Linked DNA regions of Homo sapiens. The protein of the gene in region 2 interacts with the protein of the main gene of each other region in a pairwise test. Each region holds a gene or a part of one and is shown on either strand. Other genes may lie near its edges.

Region 1 (8,511 bases), on a different chromosome or scaffold from region 2:
AGGGCAGTGGTGCGATCTCGGCTCACTGCAAGCTCCGCCTCGGGAAAACATGGGGGTGGTTCCACCTCCCCCACACACACCCCAACCACCCTCTACATGAGCAAAGGGCCTGGGGAGAGTAGTCCAGTTTGGAATACTCCTCCCATGGAATAGAAAGGGGAACTGATGGGAATGAGGAGAGGGGTTTCTATAAGTGATGAAGGGATGGCTGAGACTGGAGACCCTTCCTGGCAGCTCGGGTGACACACAGGCAAAGTGGCAAAGTGGTTGAGGGCATGGAGTTCAGAAAGAACACGGAAGAGGCAATTCATGAGATGGAGAAAATGGAGGTGTCTGAGAACTAGAGGTCTCCTTGAGGTCAGAGCACATAAAGCATTAGTTAGACTGTGGTCAGAGAGAAATACTAGAGTTTAAGATTTCAGAGGTGGCCACATGCCAATGAGGACCACATTCAGATGTAGTTGGTTAAAATGGTGACTGAAAGAGGCACTACCTCCCCTGAGACAATGGGACATGGAGTGGGAGACTGTGGTCCAGCACTAAAGACCTCCAGGAAAACAAGGAAGCAGAGGGAGAGGAGAAAACAACTAGAACATAGGGGCCTCAAAGGAGGAGTCTTCTCCCTAACCGGGCTCCAGCCTAACCCCTGTCCCTGGTCCCAGACAATCTCCCAAAAGTCTGCTTACAGTTCCAGAGAAGTCAGTGCAGCAAAGTATGAATAATTCAGAGCAGAAACCAGAGCAGAGGGCAAAGCTGCCTTGTTTGTATATAAAGGTTAGGGCAGAGAGAATCTGGGGCTTGAGAGGGTGGTAAAAGACTAGGGTCACAGAAATGGAAGGCTCCAGGCTTCTCTGCCCTTGTTTCTGGGAAGCCTTTGAAATGGGGGGTGGGGGGTTGGAGGGGAAGACAGCAATCACTGGCCTCTGCAAACCAAAGTTCTTTTTTTTTTTTTTTTTGAGATGGAGTTTCACTCTGTTGCCCAGGCTGGAGTGCAGTGGCACGATCTCAGCTAACTACAACCTCCTCCACCCAAGTTCGAACTATTCTCCTGCCTCAGCTTCCCTAGTAACTGGGATTACAGGCGTGCACCACCATGCCTGGCTAATTTTTGTATTTTTACTAGAGACACGGTTTCACCATGTTGGCCAGGCTGGTCTCGAACTCCTGACCTCAGGTGATCCACCCGCCTCGGCCTCCCCAAGTGCTGGGATTACAGGCATGAGCCACCGCGCCGGCCAAACCAAAGTTCTTAGACTACAAAACAGAAGAATTAGCAATCTGCTCAACTGATAATCTTTTATAATGGGGATAAGGGCTACATATCCCTCCAAAGATGTAGGCCTAGGGAAACACCTTAATTATCAATAAGATAGCAGTTACTACCTGAATTTTGTTCATGAAACCCTAACTATAATGTATTCCATTCCTTATTGTGAAGCTAGGACAGAAGCCCCCACAGTGGGGAGACTGAGGCCTCTGGCAGCAGACGAGGGTCAAGCCTGGCTTCAGATCAGGCCAGAGTCCTGGGGCTAACTCCAGGGCTCCCTGCTCACCAGTATGGGCCCCTCATCCCTGGCACAGAAATGGTGATTCCTTTTTGCTGCCCAGAGCCAACCTGCTAAGATGGAAGTTTCCCCCTCCTGCTCTACCTCCAATCCCCTCATCCCACTCCTAGCCCCATCTTCTGCCCTGAAATCCCAGAACTATGAATAATCCTCAGAAAACAGCAGTCTCCTGGCCATGCTGTCCCTGTCCTACTGATGACTATTCAGTAGCCTCCTACAGATCTTTGCCTGGCATTCAAGGCTTTGTGCCAGTCAGCTACAAACCTCCCTCCCACCACCTTTGGCTGCTCACAGGTTGACCTGCCTCCTACACTCCCAGCCTCATGCAGGAGATCATCTCTAGCCGCCCCCTCTGCTTCCAGTGCCCCTAAATTGGCAGCACTATCAGCTCCTCTAAGTCCTGCTACCTTCTCACATCCCACCCCTTCTGGGAAGCCTTTCCAAAAATCGCTGCTCTGCATCCCGCTGCATACATTTTGAGTCAGTCATTGGGCACTAAGTGTTCACGTCTTCTCCCATAATCTCCTCACTCCCTCCTGGATGGAGTTTCCAGGAGGGACCCAGCACAGAGCACAGTCAATCCATATACTTGCTTAAGACTTGGACACTTTCCCAATGGGTGGGAGGGAGGCAATTAACGCCCTCCCCCAATCAGATTAAGCCCAAAGCTGCTGTCAAACCTGCTGTATCACACTTCCTCCAGGAAACCTTCCGAAACTCCTGGCTGGCAGCAGGGAAGGAAGTGCAGCCTGTAAAGGAAATGCTGTGGGGGGCAAGGGGTGGGGATAGGGACAGGGAGGCAGAGGGATAGGGGAGGAAAGGAAAAGGAAGAGGGAGAAGAAAGGGGGGATGCTCTAAACTAGAACAAGGAGCATCCTCAAGGGAGGTCACTACTTAGTCCTATTATTTCATCTCTAGAGAAAGGTGCTAGAAAGAGATGCCCAGAGAGGGGAGGTGACTTGGGGAACTTGCTTGGAGGTGGCCACTCAGGAAACGGTTAAAGAAACAGCCACAGAGCCCAAGGTCTCTCTCTAGAACTCCCCTCCTGGGACCCCACTAACTCTCCAAGGGGTTTGCTAAACCTAAGACCCTCTTTCAGGGGCCCATTCACCAGAGACAGCCCCCTCTCAGCTCTAGAGACTTTGCCCTAAGGCTCACCAAGCCCAGAACAAACCTAAGTTAGCAAGACCTGTGTAGCCCCAAACAAAATCTCTCTGCCAATCATGCCCCTGCAAGAACCATCTCCCTCTTTCAGAGCCCTGCTCCGTGAGGCAGAACATGTAGGGGACAGGTTGCAAATTTCTCCAGACTCCACCACCCCATGGGCAGTCACATGGCTGAGCTCCCAGGCTCAGCCCCCAACAGCTGTGCTCGTTTTCATCCCTGTGCCTTTGCCCATACATTCTCCTGGAATGCCCTCTCTTGCCTCTCCTCCCACCCAAATCCCATCACCTCTGGAAGTCTCCTATTCGCTAGCTGTCGCCTCCCTTTCTCTCTGTGTCCCTGGGAAAGTCTGCCAGGCCCTCACTGATCTCCCCATCGGGAAGCTGGGACATTACTTGTTTAAGCCGCCTGTGACAGTGAATGCTCAGTCCGAGTCTCTACTTGGTTCCCCCAACCCACAGACCAGGAGCTCCCCGAGGCGGAGGACAAGGATCGGTTCACAAACACCTCACCTCCATCCTCGTGACCTCCGGCCAGCGTTGAAATGAGCCAAATCCGGCGCCCCCAACTCACCACCCAAAGCCCTGATGGAGCCCGCCTGGTGGCCTGGGCCAGCGCGCCCGTCGCCTCGCAACCCTGGGGCGGCTGAGGTCCGCCATCCAAAGGTCGGCCGCCCGAGGGAGGTGAGGGAAGTCAACCCGGGTCCACCTGCAGGCGCTAGTTGGAAGGAAAGGCCCAAAGGAAGCCACGGGCACCCCCTTCCAGTCGCCCCCATCCCCGGCTGCGCACGCCATCTCCAGAAGGCCGGTTTCCAGGGAACGCCAGGTGGGGCTGGCGGGGGGGATGGAGGGCCCAAAGCTCAGGCTCCAGATCCAGGGTCTGACGTCACCCAAAGGCCCAGTTCCCTCTGCGGGAGCCACAGATGGGAATGGGGGGGCTTGGGGGGCTCGGGGGGCCTGGGTGCGCCCTGAGCGCTCTCCCCCAGCCCCAAACAGTAAAGGTCACCTCCACTCCCACCTCTCCAGCAGTTCGGCCTTCTTCCTGCATCCAAAGGTGAAGTGTAGGAGGAACAAAGCTGCAGCCAGCGACCCCCACACCTCTCGCCCCGCGCCCAGCTTCCCTTCAAAGCTCTCCTCCCAGCCTTCATGCCCAGACTCACCTGCCGCGGCCGTTCGGCTGCCGAAAGGCCGCAGCGCTGCGCTGAGCTGCGCTGCACCCGAGCGATGCGGCGCGGAGCCGGCCGCGAGCCGCTCCGGGGCTGGGGGCGGGGAGCGCGCGCGCGCGCGCGCGCGCCCGAGGCCGTCTCTGCGCGCGCCCGCGCCGCCACTGCCTGCAGCAGTCACTCTCGCGAGACTTCCGCTCTGCTCCTAAGGCTGCTCCTCCTGAGCTCGCGAGAAGGACGACCCGGCCGCCCCGGCATCTTCCAGGAGCTGTCCGAGGTGCTAGTTCCCGGGCCCCGGCCGGATCAGGTGGTTGACGGGCACCTCAGGGACAAGAGCCTGGCGTGTAGGTGGAAGGAAGAGACCCAGAGATGGGAGCCTGGCACCAGCAGCCAGAGCCTCAGCTTCCATATCTGTAAACTGGGGAGAATAACCTCCTATACCTATGCCAGGAGCCTCTGGGACGTGCCAGAAAGGAGTGAGAAAGAGCTGAAAGCAGGAGAGTGTGGTGACTGCGGAAGGTCCTTCAGATCTGCAGGCGCAGGGGGAAAGAGAGAACAGAGGACGGAAGATCGGAGATGATATTCAGAGAGGCAAGGACACAGATCCACGGAAAGACGACATAGGAGGACGAGAAAGAAGAGCTGCAAACAGAGACAGAGACACACGGAGAGAGAGACTGAGATGAGAGCTCAAGGCCTGGAGAGAAAAAAGACATGGAAAGATAAGATAGGTAAGGGAGCATAATGAAGCAAGAAAGAGGCAAGAAATAGAGACAAATTACGCAAAGGAGCAGAGAGAGAGAGAGAGAGAGAGGAGAGGCTTAGAAAAAGAAAGAGACTCAGAAAAAGGAATGAAAGAGACAGTGATATGCAGAGATGAATACCAAGAGAGAGTAGAGGCAAGGGTAAATGTTTAAAAACCCAGAGCTTTGGAGGGTTGAGAGAGACCCACTTGGAGAGATGGGCTGGGAGTGAAGACAGGATTTTATTGTGATTGGTGTTTACATAGTAAACCTCCGTGGGATCTCTACAGGCAGGGCCAGGGCCACTGTCTGTCCTGCCAGCCAATTGCTCCTTCCCCTACACCATACACCCACCCTCCACCCCCCACCCACACCATCCTAGGCCTGGAAGGGGGCCTCAGTGGGTGGGAGACACTGCAGGGATTCTTTGCCTAGAATAAGGGCCCATTGTCTGGCTCCATCCTGCCAGGAGTGGGGCCTCACTCCCACAGCTGGCATGAAAAGGGGGTGGCAGTGAAAAAAGGCAGACAAGAACTAGTGTGGCAGAGGGGAAAAGGAGGGAGAGAGCCTCGGTGCCTGGGAAGGGCTGAGCAGGAAGCATCATCCTGCCACCAGGCCAACCAGGAAGGAAGGGTCCTGGGCTTCGGGGCAGGACAACTGGGTTCTGTGTCAGTCCTGTCCCTGGTTGACCCACATGCTGTCTCTCCCTGCTATAATGCAAGCCAAGGCTGATTTACAGAGCTGTGGAGAGCAGCCAATGAGATGACAACTGGGAACCTGTCGAAGTTATCAAGTGTGGCTGCTACAGGGAAAATGTTGGGAGTCCATGTGGGCCTCAGGAAAGATATAGGGGTTCACATAGGCCTTTAGGAGAGAGATCTGAGGTCCACACTGGGATCCACAAGGAAGATGTCTGGAAACCACATGGAATTTATAGGAGATATCTTGTGGTTCATGTAGGTCCTACAAGGGAAATATTGGGGTTCCCGTCTGATGACCACGGACAATTTTTCTCCACTCAGAAGAATCAGAAGGGTCTCCTATTTGATAAACAACTAACGTAGGAAGAGTGAGCAGGTCCAAAGTCAGAAGCCCACCTTTGTCCCAGTAGATTGTACCTTTCCTATTCAGGTAAATGGAAGGGAACAATGATCACTTAAACAAACGTTTACTTAATAGGCATTTGCTGGTTACCTACCATGAGAAGAAGCATACAGCAGTGGTTAAGAATATCAACCTAGAAGGCAGACCTTGCCCCTTCCCTGCAGTGTGAATTTGAGAAGGTACTAATCCTCACTGAACCTTAGTTTTCCACATATGTAAAATAAGGATGGTGATAATGGGACCCGTGTCTTAGGGTTCCTGCAAGGATGAAATGAATTAATACATGCAGACACATGTAACATATGGGACTGCCTGGTACACAGTAAGTATTTAATGATCTGTAAATAGATGGATAAAACAATTTTTAAAAATTAAAAATAAAGTATTTAAGCCAGGCACGGTGGGTCACGCCTATAATCCCAGCACTTTGGGAGGCCAAGGCAGGCGAATCACTTGAGGTCAGGAGTTCGAGACCAGCCTGGCCAACATGGTGAAACTTCATCTCTGCTAAAAATACAGAAATAGCCAGCCATGGTGGTGTGCACCTGTAATCCCAGCTACTCAGGAGGCTGAGGCACAAGAATCCCTTGAACCCAGGAGGTGGAGGTTGCAGTGAGCCTAGATGACGCCACTGCACTCCAGCCTAGGCGACAGACCAAGACTTCCTCTCAAAAAAATAAATAAATAAAGTATTTAAAGGTGCTAGCTCAAACTGCGTGGCAGGCACTGGAGACATGTCTTTGTTGTAGTGGAGGGCAGGGGTGAGAGAGCCTGTGCCAAACCATGCAGTAACACATTTCAAGCTTCTTTGCAGATGTGGAGAATGTCACATCTGCTCATATGCCATTACTCAAAGCAAGTCACATGGGTAAGCCCAAAATTAATTCATGGGGGTCAGGGAGGTATGCTACCCATACAGGATGCCAGATAAGTCACATGACAAATGGTGGGGACATTTAATCCCATTGCAGAGGGAGCAAGTAACTGGGAACAGGAACCCAATCAATCAATGTCCCACAGGGCCAGCTCCAGGCTGCTTATCTTTCCCTGCCTAGCTATGCCTGAATGAGGCATGTCCATCCAAGAGTCTCTGGGAGAATATTTATGTTACAGGCCAGTAAACGAATAAAAATAGAAGTATTTACTGAACTTTTAATGTCTGAGTGAAATGCTAAACTGCATGACCATCCTAAGAAATAAGTGCTATTGGGCCGGGCGCAGTGGCTCACACCTCTAATCCCAGCACTTTGGGAGGCCAAGGCGGGTGAATCACAAGGTCAAGAGATCGAGACCATCCTGGCTAATACGGTGAAACCCGGTCTCTACTGAAAATACAAAAAATTAGCCGAGCATGAGAGCGTGTGCCTGTAGTCCCAGCTGCTGGGAGGCTGAGGCAGGAGAATGGCATGAACCCAGGAGGCGGAGCTTGCAGTGAGCCGAGATCCCGCCACTGCACTCCAGCCTGGGCGACAGAGCGAGACTCGGTCTCAAAAAAAAAAAAAAAGAAAGAAAGAAAGAAGTGATACTATCCATATTCTATAGATGAGCCAAGTGAAATTCAGAGAGGTAAAGTGATCTGCCCAAGGAAATTGGATGGATAGATCTAAGAAATAAAAGAACCACTATCTTTAGGCTGGGTATCCCCAGAGGCAGACACTGAGATAAGGATGTTCATATAAATGGTCCATTTGAGAGATGATTCCGTGGAGCACTAGTAGGAGAGAGGGGGAGTGAAACAAACAAATGAAGAAAAGCAATATAGGGTGCAATAATCAGCAGATTACCACTGTGGACAAATGGGGCTTGACTGTATTGGGCATCTCTGGGAGAGTGAAGAAGACAAGGTACTCATCCCACTGAAGGAGTGATGACACTGATGATTTCTTCATTAGTTGAGAGCTGTTCCTGGCACCTCCAGCCTGCCGGAGTGCCTTCTGAGCAGAGAGCACCCTCAGGCAGAAAATCCCAGGGGCTTATAGTAAAAAAACATCAGGAGTGGCTAAAGGGGTATGGGAAGGGCACTGTGTTGTGACATCTACCACAGCCAGGACCTAAACCCATCAGCCTGGCTCCTGAGCCATCTTATGTCACCTCCATGATAATCCTGTTAATCACGTTATCATCCATGCTGTTAGTCCTGTGGAAGTTTACAATATGGAGTCTTCTTTCTTAACAAAGAGCCTCCCCTGACTGGCGCGGTGGCTCATGCCTGTAATCCCAACACTTTGGGAAGCCAAGGTGGGTGGATCACCTGAGGTCAGGAGTTCGAGACTAGCCTGGCCAACATGGTAAAACCCCGTCTCTACTAAAGATACAAAAATTAGCCGGGTGTGGTGGCGGGCGCCTGTAATCCCAGCTACTTGGGAGGCTGAAGCAGGGAAATCGCTTGAACCCGGAAAGCAGAGGTTGCAGTGAGCCGAGATTGTGCCATTGCACTCCAGCCTGGGGGACAAGAGTGAGACTTCATCTCAAAGAAAAAAAAAAAGTTTTTTAAATTAGCTTGACATGGTAGCATGCTCCTGTAGTCTTGGTTAGTTGGGAGGCTGAGGTGGAAGGACCACATTAAGCCTGAGATATTGAGGCTACAGTAAACCATGTTCTTCAACCACTGCACTCCAGCCTGGGCAACAAAGTGAGACCCTGCCAAAAAAGAAAGAAAGAAAGAAAGAAAGAAAGAAAGAAAGAAAGAAAGAAAGAAAGAAAGAAAGAAAGAAAGAAAGAAAGAAAGAAAGAAAGAAAGAAAGAAAGAAAGAAAGAAAGAAAGAAAGAAAGA
Region 2 (7,999 bases):
TTTTATGCTACACTCATGGTGCCATGGACAGATTTTGAGGAGGGGAGTTTACATCTGGGAGGCCACCGTGGCAGCAGAGTGGGGAATGGTGGATGGAGAGATTGAGAAGAGGCAGGAGGGCAAGCATTCACCCGCTACTTTGATGAAGGCCTGGCGTCAGCTGGCATGGAAGTTGGCCCTGGGAGTGCACTGTGTTTTTTAGGGGAGCTACAGTTGTGGAAGTGGTCACCATAGCAAAAAGGTCCTAACAGAGGAGGCAGATCTGTAAGGGAAGTCAAGGGCAGCCTGAAAGCCCTCTTTAGAGGCCAGTGCCAGATGGCCTTGGCGGAGCCACGGCCAGATCTGAGAGAATAAACCTGTCTTTATTTGTAAGCAGCCTGCTTTTACCTCCCAAGCCCACCCCTGAGACACAGTCTGGTCTGCATTAAAAGGGCTGGGGCTGTCCCAGCCAATTTGATTTTGTGTCTCATCCTATCTACTTCTCAACACAGGACCCCTTGACTGCCAGGTTTCTCCTGGGAGGGGAGATGCCAATTTTCTGCTTCAGCCTGTAGACTCCGCTGTGTGCTGTGAGGTTCTTTCCCTTCCTGGGGTCCAACATCCCCGTGAACAGGACCAGGACTAGCCCCAAACCCACAGCTGGACAGCAGATCCTGGAGCAGCTGCACGTCTTCTTTATGATAATGAAAACTGGCTGGGCCCGGTGACCCACGCCTTTAATACCAGCACTCTGGGAGGCCGAGGTGGGCAGATCACTTAAGCCTAGGAGCTTGAGACTAGCCTGGGCAACATGGCAATACCCCATCTCTACAAAAAATACAAAAATTAGCCAGGCATGGTAGTGTGCACCTGTAGTCCCAGCTACTTGGGAGGCTGAGGCAGGAGGATTACTTGAGCCTGGGAGGTCAAGGCCGCAGTGAGCCATGATCCTTTCTCAAAAAAAAAAAAAAAAAAGTACTGAAAATTAGCTCATACATACATATTTAAGCATAATTACTGGGTTTTATATAGTTTACATGTTCTAAGGTATCTCTGAAAAAAATAATCTTCTAATGAAATAATCAGCAAATGATTGGCTAATGGCAATCATTAGACAAATATTGGATGATTAAACTTAAAAAAAAAAAAAAACCCTTGCTGGGCACAGTGGTTCATGCTTGTACTTTGGGAGGCCTAGCACTTTGGGAGGCCAAGGTGGGTGGATCACTCGCGTTCAGGAGTTCGAGACCAGCCTGGCCAACATGGCAAAACCCGGTCTCTATTAAAAATACAAAAATTAGCTGGGCATGGTGGCGGGTGCCTGTGATCCCAGCTACTTAGGAGGTTGAGGCAGGAGAATTGCTTGAACTCAGGAGGCAGAGGTTGGGGTGAGCCAAGATCAAACCACTGCACTCCAGCCTGGGTGACAGAGCAAGACTCCATCTCAAAAACAACAACAACAAAAAAACCCTTTTACCTGTTTTTTTCATTCTTGTAATTGAAGTATAATACAAATCTTAAGTGTAAAACTCAGTGAATGTGTACACGTTACATCCAGGTCAACATATAATCATCCCAGAAGTTTCCTTCATGTCCCTTTGCACCAAGCCCCCACCCCCAAAGAGATTACTGCTCATCTAACTTTTATCACCATACATAAAGTTTTGCTTGTTCTTGAACTTCAATTTGAATCATACAATGTATATGCTATTGCATTTGGCTACTTTTGCTTAACATAGCATCAGTGAGAGTTGTACACGTTTTTGCATGTATCAGCCATTTGTTCTTTTTCATTGCTGTGTAGTATTCCATTGTGCACCTAGACCACAATTTATCTGTCTAGTTTCTTGCTTATGAACATTTGGACTGTTTCCAGTTTTTGCCTCCTGTATTTAAAGCTGTCGTGAGGCCAGGTATGGTGGCTCACACCTGTAATCCCAGTACTTTGGGAGGCCAAGAAGGGAGGATCACTTGAGGTGAGAAGTTGGAGACCAGCCTGGGCAACATAGTGAGACCCATCTCTACAAAAGAAGAAAAGAAAAAATTGAGGCCAGGCACGGTGGCTCACACCTGTAATCCCAGCACTTTGGGAGGCCGAGGCGGGCAGATCACGAGGTCAGGAGATCGAGACCATCCTGGCTAACACAGTGAAACCCCGTCTCTACTAAAAACAAAAAAATTAGCCAGGCGTGGTGGCGGGCACCTGTAGTCCCAGCTACTCGGGAGGCTAAGACAGGAGAATGGCGTGAACCCGGGAGGTGGAGCTTGCAGTGAGCCGAGATCGCACCACTGCACTCCAGCCTGGGCGACAGAGCGAGACTCCATCTCAAAAAAAAGAAAGAAAGAAAAAAAGAGAAAAGAAAAAATTGAGACACAATATAATTCACCCTTTTAAATAAATGTGCAATTCAGTGGTTTTTCGCATATGCACAAGGTTGTGCAACTGTCACCACTGTCTAATACCAGAATGTTTTCATCACTCCAAGAGGAAATGTTATATCCATTCATAATCACTCTACATCCCTTCCTTTCCTCAATCCATGTCAACTACTAATCTACTTTCTGTCTCTATGTTTGTTTGTTTGTTTTTGAGATGGAGTTTCGCTCTTGTTACCTAGGCTAGAGTGCAATGGCGCAATCTTGGCTCACCACAACCTCTGCCTCTCGGGTTCAAGCAATTCTCCTGCCTTAGCCTCCCGAGTAGCTGGGATGATAGGCAGTAGGTGGGATTACCACCATGCCCAGCTAATTTTTGTATTTTTAGTAGAGATGGGGTTTCTCCATGTTGGTCAGGCTGGTCTTGAACTCCCGACCTCAGGTGATCCGCCCGCCTCAGCCTCCCAAAGTGCTGGGATTACAGGCGTGAGCCACCACACCCAGCCCTATTTCTATGTTATTTAATACTTATTCCTGACATTTAATAATGATGGTCAAACTTTTAATATATCAATTTCTTTGATTTTTTTTTTTCTAGGATCCTAAGCACTTCAAGTCAGAGAAGACAGGACGGGGACAGTTGAGGGAAGGCTGGAGAGATAGTCATCAGCCTATCATGTGCTCCTACAAGCTGGTGACTGTGAAGTTTGAGGTCTGGGGGCTTCAGACCAGAGTGGAACAATTTGTACACAAGGTAAGTGGTCCAACAGCAGTTCCTGGGCTGTGGACAAGGTAACTGTCTATATTGCCAAATTGGAGTCCATGATACACAACAGGTGCACAAATACATCAGGTCACTGCATCTCAAAAACACTTTTTGGGCCGGTTGGGGTGGCCAACACCTGTAATCCTAGCACTTTGGGAGGCCGAGGCGGGTAGATCACTTGAGGCCAAGAGTTCAAGACCGGCCTGGCCAACATGGTGAAACCCTGTCTCTACTAAAAATACAAAAACATTAGCTGGGCATGGTGGTGGGTGCCTGTAACCCAGCTACTCAGGAGGCTGAGGCAGGAGAATTACTTGAACCCGGGAGGCAGAGATTGCAGTGAACCAAGATCGTATTATTGCACTCCAGCCTGGGCAATAAGAGAGAAACTCTGTCTCAAAAAATAAGAAATAAAAATAAAAAATAAAAAAATAAAAAATACTTTTTGGATGAAAATGCATTTTATGCATAGGTTCAATTTTCTTCCACTAATAGATGTTTTATGCCCCATCTCTCATTCTGTGACCTCCATGTCTATTAGGCAAGCGTATTTGGGAAACACACTTCTCAGTTTGGTATTGGACTCATCTACTCCCAGACAGAGAAACTTGGGAAACAGCCAAAGGGCTTATCTGTGAGCACAGCCCCTAAGGTTAATTGCCACCCAAAAGATCTACAAATGTAAGCACCTAAGCAGAAGATGCCCAGAGGTAGAACAAGAAATCCCAATAGTCCCATTAGACAGTATACCCCAGCATTTCTGCTTCTTTAATAATTCTGTTACTAAAGTAGCCAGGTGTGGTGGCTCATGCCTGTAATACCAGCCCTTTGGGAGGCTGAGGCAGGTGGATCACTTGAGGTCAGGAGTTCGAGACCAGCCTGGCCAACCTGGTGAAACCCTGTCTCTGCTAAAAATACAAAAAAATTAGCCGGGTGTGGTGGCACGTGCCTATAATCCCAGCTACTCAGGAGGCTGAGGCAGGGAGAATTGCTTGAACCCAGGAGGCAGAGGTTGCAGTGAGCCAAGATCGTGCTGCTGCACTCCAGCCTGGGTGACAGAGCAAGACTCCATCTCAAAAAAAAAAAAAAAAAAAGGAAATAATAAGAATAATTCTGTTACCAAATAATTGTTAACAGCCTCGGGATGCAGATTTCAATTGTAAACCTACTTTGGCTAAACATGTTCATTTTGGTTTTTTGTTGTTGTTGCTGCTGCTGTTGTTTTGAGACGGAGTCTCACTCTGTCGCCAGGCTGGAGTACAGTGGCACAATCTCAGCTCACTGCAACCTCTGCCTCCCGGGTTCAAGTGATTATCCTGCCTCAGCCTCCCGAGTAGCTGGGACTACTGGGAGGTGCGCACGCCACCATGCCCAGCTAATTTTTGTATTTTTAGTAGAGATGGAGTTTCACCATGTTGGCAGGGATGGTCTCGATCTCTTGACCTCCTGATCTATCTGCCTCGGCCTCCCAAAGTGCTGGGATTACAGACATGACCCACCGTGCCCGGCCGGCATGTTCATTTTGTAGCAGAATCCCACTTGGTGAAGAGTCATATTTTCTCAGGGTTTCTAACATGACTCTGTCCCTCATGGGAGAAAAAAATGGGAAATGCAATGTTGAGCATTGCCCTTTGTAGCTGCTCTCATTTTCATAAGAATAAATACTACCCAAATTGTCTCTACATTCCAGATAGGCTGGTTATCTGTTTATTTTTCCACTTAAAAACTGATAAGAGTAGCTTGCCAAAATTATTTTGGAGTCACTGGAATTTAACCTTAATGCACTGAGCTTTTTGTTACTTAGATGGATTTGTCTATTGAGATTGGGGGCCAGTTAACAATAAAAAGTTTAATTCTGGAATTTAGGTCCAAGAACTAGACTGCCAGTCTCTTGAACCCTCATAACTCAGGCTCACGGTAATGGCAGACTCTGGCACAAACATGAGAGCCCTGGGTGTTTTCTTGAACAGAGAAGCATGCCACTCCTTTCCCGTGCTCCAGAACCCAGCCAGCCAGCCAGGAGCCAGAATGAAATGTGATACGTAGAAATCAAGCTCCAGGATCTCCTGTTTTCCTCCTGTGTCCTGATTATTGCACAGGAAAGCAATTGCAGCTCCCAAAGTAAATGTTTTCCAGCCTCAGCTTTGTGTCTATCTAAGGCAGTGTCTTCCTTGGTTTCCCACAGCATCCCTTTTTGTGTGTGGCTTTTTAAGGTAAAAAGACTTCCTCTTACTAGGGCCACTATCATAGTATTATTTTGTTTTGTTTTGTTTTTTTGAGATGGAGTCTCAATCTGTTGCCCAGGCTGGAGTGCAGTGACATGATCTCGGCTCACTGCAACCTCCACCTCCCAGGTTCAAGCAATTCTTGTGCCTGAGCCTCCTGAGTAGCTGAGGCACAGGTGCATGCCACCACACCAGGCTAACTTTTGTATTATTAGTAGAGACGGGGTTTCACCATGTTAGCCAGGCCAGTCTCGAACTCCTAACCTTAAGTGATTTGCCTGCCTCGGCCTCCCAAAGTACTGGGTTTACAGTCGTGAGCCACCATGCCCGGCTTCATAGTGTGTTTTCCACTCACAAAGCATATTTAATAAGGCAGAGTTGTCAGTTAAAAAGAGAATAATACAAAATAAAAATAAGGCTGGGCGTGGTTCACACCTGTAATCCCAGCACTTTGAGAGGCCGAGGCAGGCAGATCACTTGAGGTCAGGAGTAGTTCGAGACCAGCCTGGCCAACATGGTGAACTCTCATCTCTACTAAAAATACAAAAATTAGCTGGGCGTGGTGACAGGTGACTGTAGTCCCAGCTACTCCAGAGGCCGAGGCAGGAGAATCACTTGAACCCAGGAAGTAGAGGTTGCAGTGAGCCTAGGTCGCGCCACTGCACTACAGCCTGGGGGACAGAGCAAGACTCTGTCTCCAAAATAATAATAATAATAATAATAATAATAATTTAAAAGGCCATATTTATATTGCCCCAGGGTCCACTGTGTTTCTTTTCTCACAGATGACTCAGGCTAGTTTTGAGAATCTGTTTCCTGAAAATACCTGTAAGATTTATGCCTTGCCCTTTCCAAATATAAGGAAGTGTTATTGACACTCCAGAAACGCACCTGCTCTCGCACGTGAGTCGCTAATGAGTATCTGAGGCTAGCATTTGCATGGGTTGAAGGTGCCAGGGATGCCTTTCTCTGAACACCTTTGTTTTTTTAAGAATCTATTCACAGTTAAGGGGAAAAAAATGTTCGAAAGCGAGCCATGAGCACATTATTGAATTCTGGTTTCCAGCCGACAGCTGTGTTGTGCTTCGTGTAATAGGGTACATTTACTGATGCCTCGATGCTGTTCTTTTGATTTCCATGAATTTGAGACACTCAGCACTCAAGTGTGTATAGCTGTGTGTTGTTTCTTGTATTCATTATGTGTTTCCTACTTTCAAGTCATAAAAGCCTCACTAGATATCCAGAGGCCTGGAGTCATAAACACTTCATTATAAATGCTTTCCTTGTTTCTGCAAATTCACTGAATTAAAATCCTTCATTTATTGAAACATGCTTGAACCTTCCACGAGAGGTTTTTCACAATCACTGGATTTGTTTGGCAGGAAGAAAGGAATGTTACAGGGATACTGTGAGTATCCAAGAAATGTAAAAAGACATATTTACCCAGGATGGAAAAGAATACCATGAAATAAAAACACATGAACAGTATCTCACACACGCAGACACACACACACACACAAATGGTATATACTATTTTCCTTAGCCTTCTATTGCCATTATGTGTCACCATAAGAAACAATTTCATCCTTTTTGTGTCCAGTCAAGCTTGTCATTCCCATTACGTTCTATTCTAGTTCAGGTCTCTTTTTTCATCCTTTCAATGGTAAACGGCCTTTTTCCCCCTCTTCTATTACATGAAAGTCAAACCTAAAAGGATATTTACTTATCTTGTATCTCACACATTCATTTATGCTTGTTTAAAAATTGAGGCCAGGCGTGGTGGCTCATGCCTGTAATCCCAGCACTTTGGGAGGCCGAGGCAGGCAGATCACAAGATCAGGGGTTCGAGACCAGCCTGACCAACATGGTGAAACCCCGTCTCTACTAAAAAAATACAAAAATTAGCCGGGCATGGTGACAGGCACCTGTAATCCCAGCTACTCAGGAGGCTGAGGCAGGAGAATCACTTGAACCAGGGAAGCGGAGGTTACAGTGAGCCGAGATCGCAGTGAGCCGAGATGGCGCCACTGCACTCCAGCCTAGGGGACAGAGCGAGACTCCGTCTCAAAAAAAAAAAAAAAAAAAAAAAGATAAAAAGAAAAATTGAATCAATATTTATTTTTTAAATAATTTTTTGTGGGTACATAGTAGGTGTAAACATTTAGGGGGTACATGAGATGTTTTCATAAGGCCTGCAATGTGAAATAGGCACAATGTGAGGAATGGGGTATCCATCCCCTCCAGCATTTATCCTTTGTGTTACAAAGAATCCAATTACACTCTTAAGTTATTTTAAAATGTACAATTAAAAAATTGAATCAGGCTGGGTGAAGTGGCTCACACCTGTAATCCCAGCACTTTGGGAGGCCAAGACAGGTGAACTGCTCGAGGCCGGGAGTTTGAGACCAGCCTGGACAACATGGCGAAACCCTGTCTGTACTAAAAATACAAAAATTAGCCAGGCATGGTGGTGCGCACCTGTAGTCCCAGCTACTGAGGAGGCTAAGGCACAAGAATCGCTTAAACACAAGAGGCAGAGGTTATAGTGAGTTGAGATTGCACCACTGCACTTCAGCCTGGGGGACAGAGCAAGACTGTCTCAAAAAAAAAAAAAAATCAGTATTTAGGATATGTCATCAGAAAAGAGGGAATG
Region 3 (7,046 bases), on a different chromosome or scaffold from region 2:
ACTTCTAGAAGCTGCGCCTGGCAGACCCAGGGACTCGCTCCATAGCAGCCATGACAGGCAGGAATTTGGGCAGTGTTTTACACCTTGGATGAATGTAGTCAAAGTGGGAAGATAACTTTACATCATTTAATATACACAGGCCGACAAACAATAATCTTTCAAAGAATTAAGTCCCTGCACAAACATAACAATAAAATAATAAAAAGTGTCTATGGTGAGGAAAATAGACACTCCCTTGGGCAGAAACTAAAATGGCATTCTAGACTCTTGGCAGTGAATACACTGGCCCTAGTGAGGGCCCTATAGGGGAAGGCCAAACCTAGAGGTGGAGACAGGGTCTCCGACACAAGGATGGCCATGCCCTGTGTCTCAGCCTTGGAGAGGGCTCCAGCAGGAAATGGGAACCTGGGAGGTCCCTATGCTGATGCGAGATGGCTCCACTCTGCTGGGCAGGGCCCCAAGTTGGCGGGGGTCCTGGAGCAAAGGGAGTTCTCAAGGGCAGGGAGAGGTGGTCTCAGCCTTAGGAAGGAAGCGCAGTGCCGGGGAGGGGAGCCGAGGACAATGAACTGGGCTTTGTGCTCGAGCTCACTACCCGTGATTCTGTGTGGATTTCCCTTCTATCATTCCCAAGCTTTGGCAACAACAACTGTTATTTTTGGGACTGGATTCTCAGCTGGGGGGCTGAAATTAAGGCAGGGTCTAAATCCACTCTTAGGCTGCATGTTAAGGAGGAGCAGAGCCCCCTGAGGCCAGAGGACCCACCTCACCCAGGGAGATTCCTTCTGCAAGCCAGTCCTGCAAAATCTGTTATCAGCTTTATTAGGGAAAACATCAGGTCTCTTTACACGTTGAACAGGAACTGCTGGTTAACAAGACACGATTAACTTGCTAGGAATGGACAAGGACAGCGACAGGATGGTGCTTCACAGTGCCTCCTGCTGATGGCACCTTCATTCTGGCTGCAGAATTCTCCCAGGAAGGGTCCCGGGCTCTTCAGGAGGCATTTACTTGGAAGTACAGGTCAGCGTTATCCAAAGTTGTCCAGCCTCCGGCCTGGCCCATGTCTTCAGGCAGCTCTGAGGCAAGAATAAAAGGGACGAGTTCCCTGCCCCCTTTTTACCCGCTGGATCAGCTTCTACGACTTGGTCAAACTATCTTTCTTTCTGTCTGCCATGCCAGGAAATCCAGTGACAGCAAGACCCAGAGTCAGGCACATTTGGAGGGCAGGTCCATCGGCCACTCCTCACTTCTGTGGGCTCCGATGCCAGCAGAGCCACCTGAGCGGCTGCTACCTCTTGCCGGAGGCAGTTTCTTCTGGCCTCACCCACCCAACCATGGCTACGTCAGGGCAGAAGGGAGAGAAGAAAGAGAGATGAGAGATGAAAGGATTTAAAATGGGCAACCATCTTTGAGGTTTCCCACATCTGCACCGCTCCACAGTGTGAAAAGGGCTTTCTCACTTTCACATGATCCCTGGGGGCTACTATCCCCCTGTAACCAAAAGGGAAACTGGGACTCAAAGGGAAGAAGAAACGTGCTCAACATCACGCAGCACTAGGTCTATGTCCAGTGCTCTTTCCAGGGTAACAGGTTGCTTCTACTCATTTTAAAGGACTAAAAACAGAAAAACAGGCACCCAACTGACCCTTCCTCCCTGACGATCTAGAACTTACACATTACGTGCTGCCTTTGCACATGCCCCAGCTGGAATGCCCTTTTTCTTTTCTGCCTAAACCTGCCCTTTGAGGCCCCACTCCATCTCTCTCCTCTGGGGCGTGCCCAGGCTGAGCCTGAGCCATCATCGATGACTTTCCCTGAGCTGTATACCCAGCAGGCTTCATCACCACACCATCTCACCGACATGATTGTCTCCTCTAAGATACTGTGGGGTTCCCTTGAGGGCAGAGAAGTCCTTTTTCATCTTTGGAGACAGAGCGTACGAGTAGGGCTGGCACAGGGTAGATGCTCAGTAAACGTTCGGTAAACAAAAGAATTAAAAAATAAACAATCTCCTCACAAAACCAGCTGGCCTCCATGTAATTTTGTGGCGCTGAAGAAGAGAGGCAGGAGCCCTCCGTGGCCAGCAGGGACTTGGACATCCAGCACTCACGACACACCAGCAAGACACTGCCTGGGTGCTGGGAAACAATGCCCTCCACCCTGCAGGAGAGCTCAGGGTGGAGCCTCAGCTCAATGCCCTCAGGCTGGAGAGCTCTCAGAACAGGGACCCTGCCATCTCAAAGCAGGACCGGTCCCCTGATGTCCCACTGCCAAGCAGGCCACCTCTGCAGAGCTGCTGGGGAGAAAAAGGTGACCACCAAGGGCCCTGACCCACTTCCAGGGCTGCAAGGCCTCTTGGTTGCCGCTGTTCCAGAAAAAGCGGGGCTTCTCCAATGGTGTCCAAGGAATTCCAGTCTTGCAAAAGCACCTTGGAGAAGTGATGAGAGTAATGTGGGAGATGCTATGAGTTTCTTGGCCCTGTGAAGAGGCCTGACCCATGCTGGCATGCTGAAGGTTGTGAGAGGCCTGTAGCAAAGATGATCGTGTAGCTCGCTTTAGTGTCTGCCAAACCTACTCAACCAGGGAACCTCACCCCACTTTCACATACACACCCTACGTTTCTTTATGAAAAACCTATTATCCTGTGGAACTAGGGTTCCCAGGAGCATACTTTTGGGAAATGCTGGTGAAGGTTGCCAAGCAAGGGAGGTGCTTCTTGTGGGGGGAACAGCCACAGGCAGGCTGGGGACACGTGTGGGAAGGGAAGGGGGTGATCAAGGACCAAAAATCAGAAAAACAAGCACCCAACTGACCCCTCCTCCCTGACGATCTATAACCTACATGTTCCGTGCTGCCTCCACACATGCCCCCGCTGGGGTGCCCTTTCTCTTCCCTGCCTACCAGCCGCATCCAAACATCCCCAGAAAGGGTGCCAGGGACCTCTTGTGAACCAGCACACAAACTTCCTAGGATGAAAAGCCTTGGACACTTGAGTCCAGTGAAAAAGAAAGGAAAGGCATTGTCTGGAGCCTCTGCTGTCCTGTCTGCAAAATGGGAATAGCCCCGCTCTGTCCAGGGTCATCCAATGAGTTCATGGAGGTCTACATTTGTGAAAAGGTGACCCCCCGGTGCAGCTGTGTATCATTGTTCAATCAAACTTACCTGAGTGGAAGCTATACCAGTATATTGTTATGAAAAAAACAGGACCACAGCAAAAAGCAGGCACAAAACCTCAAAGCACATAACGTCAGGGGCCATGAATTTCAGAGGCAAACAATTCTAGGCCTACTGTTAACCCCTGAAGCCATCAGTAAATTAAAACAAGAATCACAAGTGCTTCTAGCTCCAGGAGTCTATAGGAGTTAGTGGAAAAGGCACAGGCTTGCAAGCCCACCAGGTCCGGTTCTGACCCCAGATCTGCTCCTTCTGGGCTGTTTAACTGGCAAGCTGCTTCCCTCTCCTAAGCATCCGTTTCCCGAATGTGCAAGATGAGGTTACACAATGCCACCTCCAGGGTGGCCATGAGGATGAAATGACAAAGGTAAAGCTGCCAGCACATAGTAGGGGATGAATGAGTGTGTCTCCTTAAAAAGGCTGGGACATTAGTAACCTTTGTAAAGGTGTCTATCAGTAACAGCTAAATGAAACACTTTGTCTTCAGTCCTGTGGAAAGTTGGCTTCTGTGAGTGTAAGGCTGAGAGAATTTAAAGGAAAAACACCCAACCATCAGGGCAGGGGAAGAAAACTACGAGGCTCTGGGCAGTAAGTTAACGACAGCCTCTGAAAGCCAGCATAGGGGAATGGGCTTTCATGGCTGGGGGAGGGACAGATGAGAGATGGCACCTCCCAAGGAGACCAACTTGTGGCTCAGCATGGCTCAAGGTAGAGATCAGAATTCTGTGCAGCCTACCATCGACTGGGTACTTCCTGCAGACCCAGCACTTTGGGCATACTGGTTCTAAGCTCCAACTAAGAGGCCATTGAGCTTCATCTGAACTTTGAACCTGAGTCCAGAGCACAAGGTCTGCCCACTCTACCATGCTGCCTCTCAATGTCGGGACCATCTATTTACAGGTGTTCTCTTGCCTGTCGAGAGCCTGAAGGCTCTGTATTGTGTCTGCACACTTGGCACCTGGTAGCTAACATAAATGCAACAAGCACTGGCTGAATGAGTCATTCACTGGAAAACACTTCAGAAAGCCAGTGGGTTTTAAAAGTCAGGGCCCCTCTAATTTAATAAAATATGATATGGTAGGAAACTACACAAGCCAATTCCCTTTTGAGGAACACAGCATTAATAGGATGTAGACAAAATTCCAAATTTTCACTTCTTTGCCTAGAAACTTTGAGCACCAGAGACCTTTACACAATGTGACCCATTAGCCTTCTGCTTCCACTTTCAGTGCAGAAAGCCCTGCAGTGATACAGGTGAGCACTGTGGAGTACCAGAGCATCATCTGGTCTGACCTTCCACTTTGCAGATAAGGAAACTGAAAGCTAGGAAGAAGAAGGGATCCACACAGCAGGCCTCCACTTCTTTCCTTCTATAATAGACTCTCTTTGCAATAAAGAAAAATGCGTTTGACATACACATCTCCAATGTAAGCTGTATGCAGCAGGTGCAGTGGAATGCTACAGCAGTCACATACACAGCACTAAGGGACCCAGTGGCTGAAAGGGGGTCAAAAAAGACTTCATCTGAGAGGTGACTTGGACTAGGAGGGGCAAGTTAGAAGTTTTAAGGGAAGATGTGCCAGGAAGGCTAACCTCTCACCATAATACATACCCCCCATCTAAGTCAAAAGTTGTTGCTGGGAAGCCACTATGTGGAGACTGCACATCCTGGCCTCCTCTGCATCCAGGTGGGGCCACATGACTACCAGTGGCCAAGAGGACGTGAGCAGGAGTGATGTGTGTCAGTTAAGAGCAAGGCAGGTAAGAAGCAGCCGTGCCTTCTCCATCGTCCCTTTCCCTTGCCGCCAGCCAGAAGCAAACTCTGAGGCTCCCGGGGAGGGCAGAGCACAGGATGAAAGGAGCTGAGTCCCTGCATCACTGTGTGAACCAACCTGCCAAGCAGAAGCACCCCCACTGGACTGTTACATGGGAATCTGTCTCTGTGTGTTGAAGTTTGTTGCAGCAAGAAGTACTACCAATGAATGCCGTCGACGTGAAGTGGGCATCCCGAGCAAAGGGAACAACATGACTAAGGCACAGCAGTGTGACGGGGGCAGGGCTGGGGCTGTGGCCACGTGAAGGGGTCCCGGGATTCAGAGAGCTCACGCTGGTGGCTGCGGGAAGGAGGATCACGCACAGGGGCTGTTGCCAGGGGCCCTGGTGTTGCTGGCACTGCTCTCAAAGGAAGAGTGAAAGTTGTGAATGGTTTCCTGTAAAATTTGTCTCTCGCGTCCCTGTGGAGGAAATTGAAAACAGACACAGAAAGTCTTATTAAACCTTTTAACCATTAATTCAATTGACACAGTGTTGTTAATGTTCAACTCATACTTCAAAAACCCATGGGCGTCTTGGGGAAAATAAATTACCTAACTGAAAGAGTACCGAGTTCAATAAAAACATACTGAGTCAGAATCTCCCCAGTACCCACCATCGCAGCCTGTCAATGCTGGAGAGGCCCTGGGATGCAGGACCCCAAACCCCTGGACAGAGTGGGAGGCCGAGTCCGGGGCAGGACTGACTTCTCCCGAGTCGCACGGCCCGGATTCGAGGTCTCCTTTCCTGCGCCTCTGTGCATCTTTCCAGTCCTTAGATTTCCAGATAATTCAATGGGAGCCAAGTGTCCTTCTGCTACAGGATAAGAGTTTAAACTGCCTTTGCTTCCCTTTGCCCAAAAGCTGCCGGATTTGTCTTCACAGAGATTCACTTCTCACTCTATTCCTACAACGCCCCCTGCCCCCTATACACACATTTTCAGATGAGAAAAGAGGGTGGATGTGAATGTTCTGTTAAGCCCAGAAAACATCATCACTGCATTCCAGGCTCGGAGGCAGCAATACTCAGAGGTTAAGAACAGAGACTGCGTCCTAGCCAGAGCAATCAGACAGGAAGTCAAACTGTCGCTGTTTGCTGATGACATGATCGTTTACCTAGAAAACCCTAAAGACAGCTCCAGAAAGCTCCTAGAACTGATAAAAGAATTCAGCAAAGTTTCTGGATACAAGATTAACGTACACAAATCAGTAGCTCTTCTATACAACAACAGTGACCAAGCTGAGAATCGAATCAAGAACTCAACCACTTCTATAATAGCTGCAAAAAAATAAAAAAAAAAAATACTTAGGAATATACCTAACCAAGGAGGTGAAAGACCTCTACAAGGAAAACTAGAAAACACTGCTGAAATAAATCATAGATGACACAAACAAGTGGAAACACATCCCATGCTCATGGATGGAGAGAATCAATATTGTGAAAATGCCCATATTGTCAAAAGCAATCTACAAATTCAATGCAATTCCCATAAAAATATCACCATCATTCTCCACAAAATTAGAAAAAACAATTCTAAAATTCATATGGAACTGAAAAAGAGCCCGCGTAGCCAAAGCAAGAATAAGCAAAAAGAACAAATGTGGAGGCATCACGTTACCTGATTTCAAACTATACTATAAGGCCATAGTCACCAAAACAGCATGGTACTGGTATAAAAAATAGGCACATAGACCAACGGAACAGAATAGAGAACCCAGAAATAAACCCAAATACTTACAGCCAACTGACCTTTGACAAAGCAAACAAAAACATAAAGTGGGGAAAGGACACCCTTTTCAACCAATGGTGCTGGGATAACTGGCTAGCCACATGTAGGAGAATGAAATTAGATCCTCAACTCTCAGCTTATTCAAAAATCAACTCAAGATGGATTAAAGATTTAAATCTAAGACCTGAAACTATAAAAATTCTAGAAGGTAACATTGGAAAAACCCTTCTATACACTGGCTTAGACAAGGATTTCATGACCAAGAACCCAAAAGCAATGCATAAAAACAAAGGTAAATAGCTGAGACTTATTTAAACTAAAGAGCTTTTGC

The links.
Region 1: the proteins of PITPNC1 (region 2) and SCAMP5 interact in binary tests that used the Homo sapiens proteins (3 or more experiments, as listed by UniProt).
Region 3: the proteins of PITPNC1 (region 2) and ANKS6 interact in binary tests that used the Homo sapiens proteins (3 or more experiments, as listed by UniProt).

Annotation. Positions count from the first base shown.
Region 1 is NC_000015.10:74,991,051-74,999,561, reverse strand, and holds the start of SCAMP5 (secretory carrier-associated membrane protein 5), read right to left. Parts: upstream 4,000-8,511; 5' UTR 3,889-3,999; intron 3,541-3,888; exon of another isoform or gene 3,248-3,540; coding exon of another isoform or gene 3,242-3,247; intron 2,329-3,241; exon of another isoform or gene 2,246-2,328; intron 1-2,245. UniProt on the Homo sapiens protein: Required for the calcium-dependent exocytosis of signal sequence-containing cytokines such as CCL5. Probably acts in cooperation with the SNARE machinery.
Region 2 is NC_000017.11:67,666,555-67,674,553, forward strand, and holds part of PITPNC1 (cytoplasmic phosphatidylinositol transfer protein 1), read left to right. Parts: intron 1-2,953; coding exon 2,954-3,109; intron 3,110-7,999.
Region 3 is NC_000009.12:98,731,216-98,738,261, forward strand, and holds the end of ANKS6 (ankyrin repeat and SAM domain-containing protein 6), read right to left. Parts: intron 5,409-7,046; coding exon 5,304-5,408; 3' UTR 794-5,303; downstream 1-793.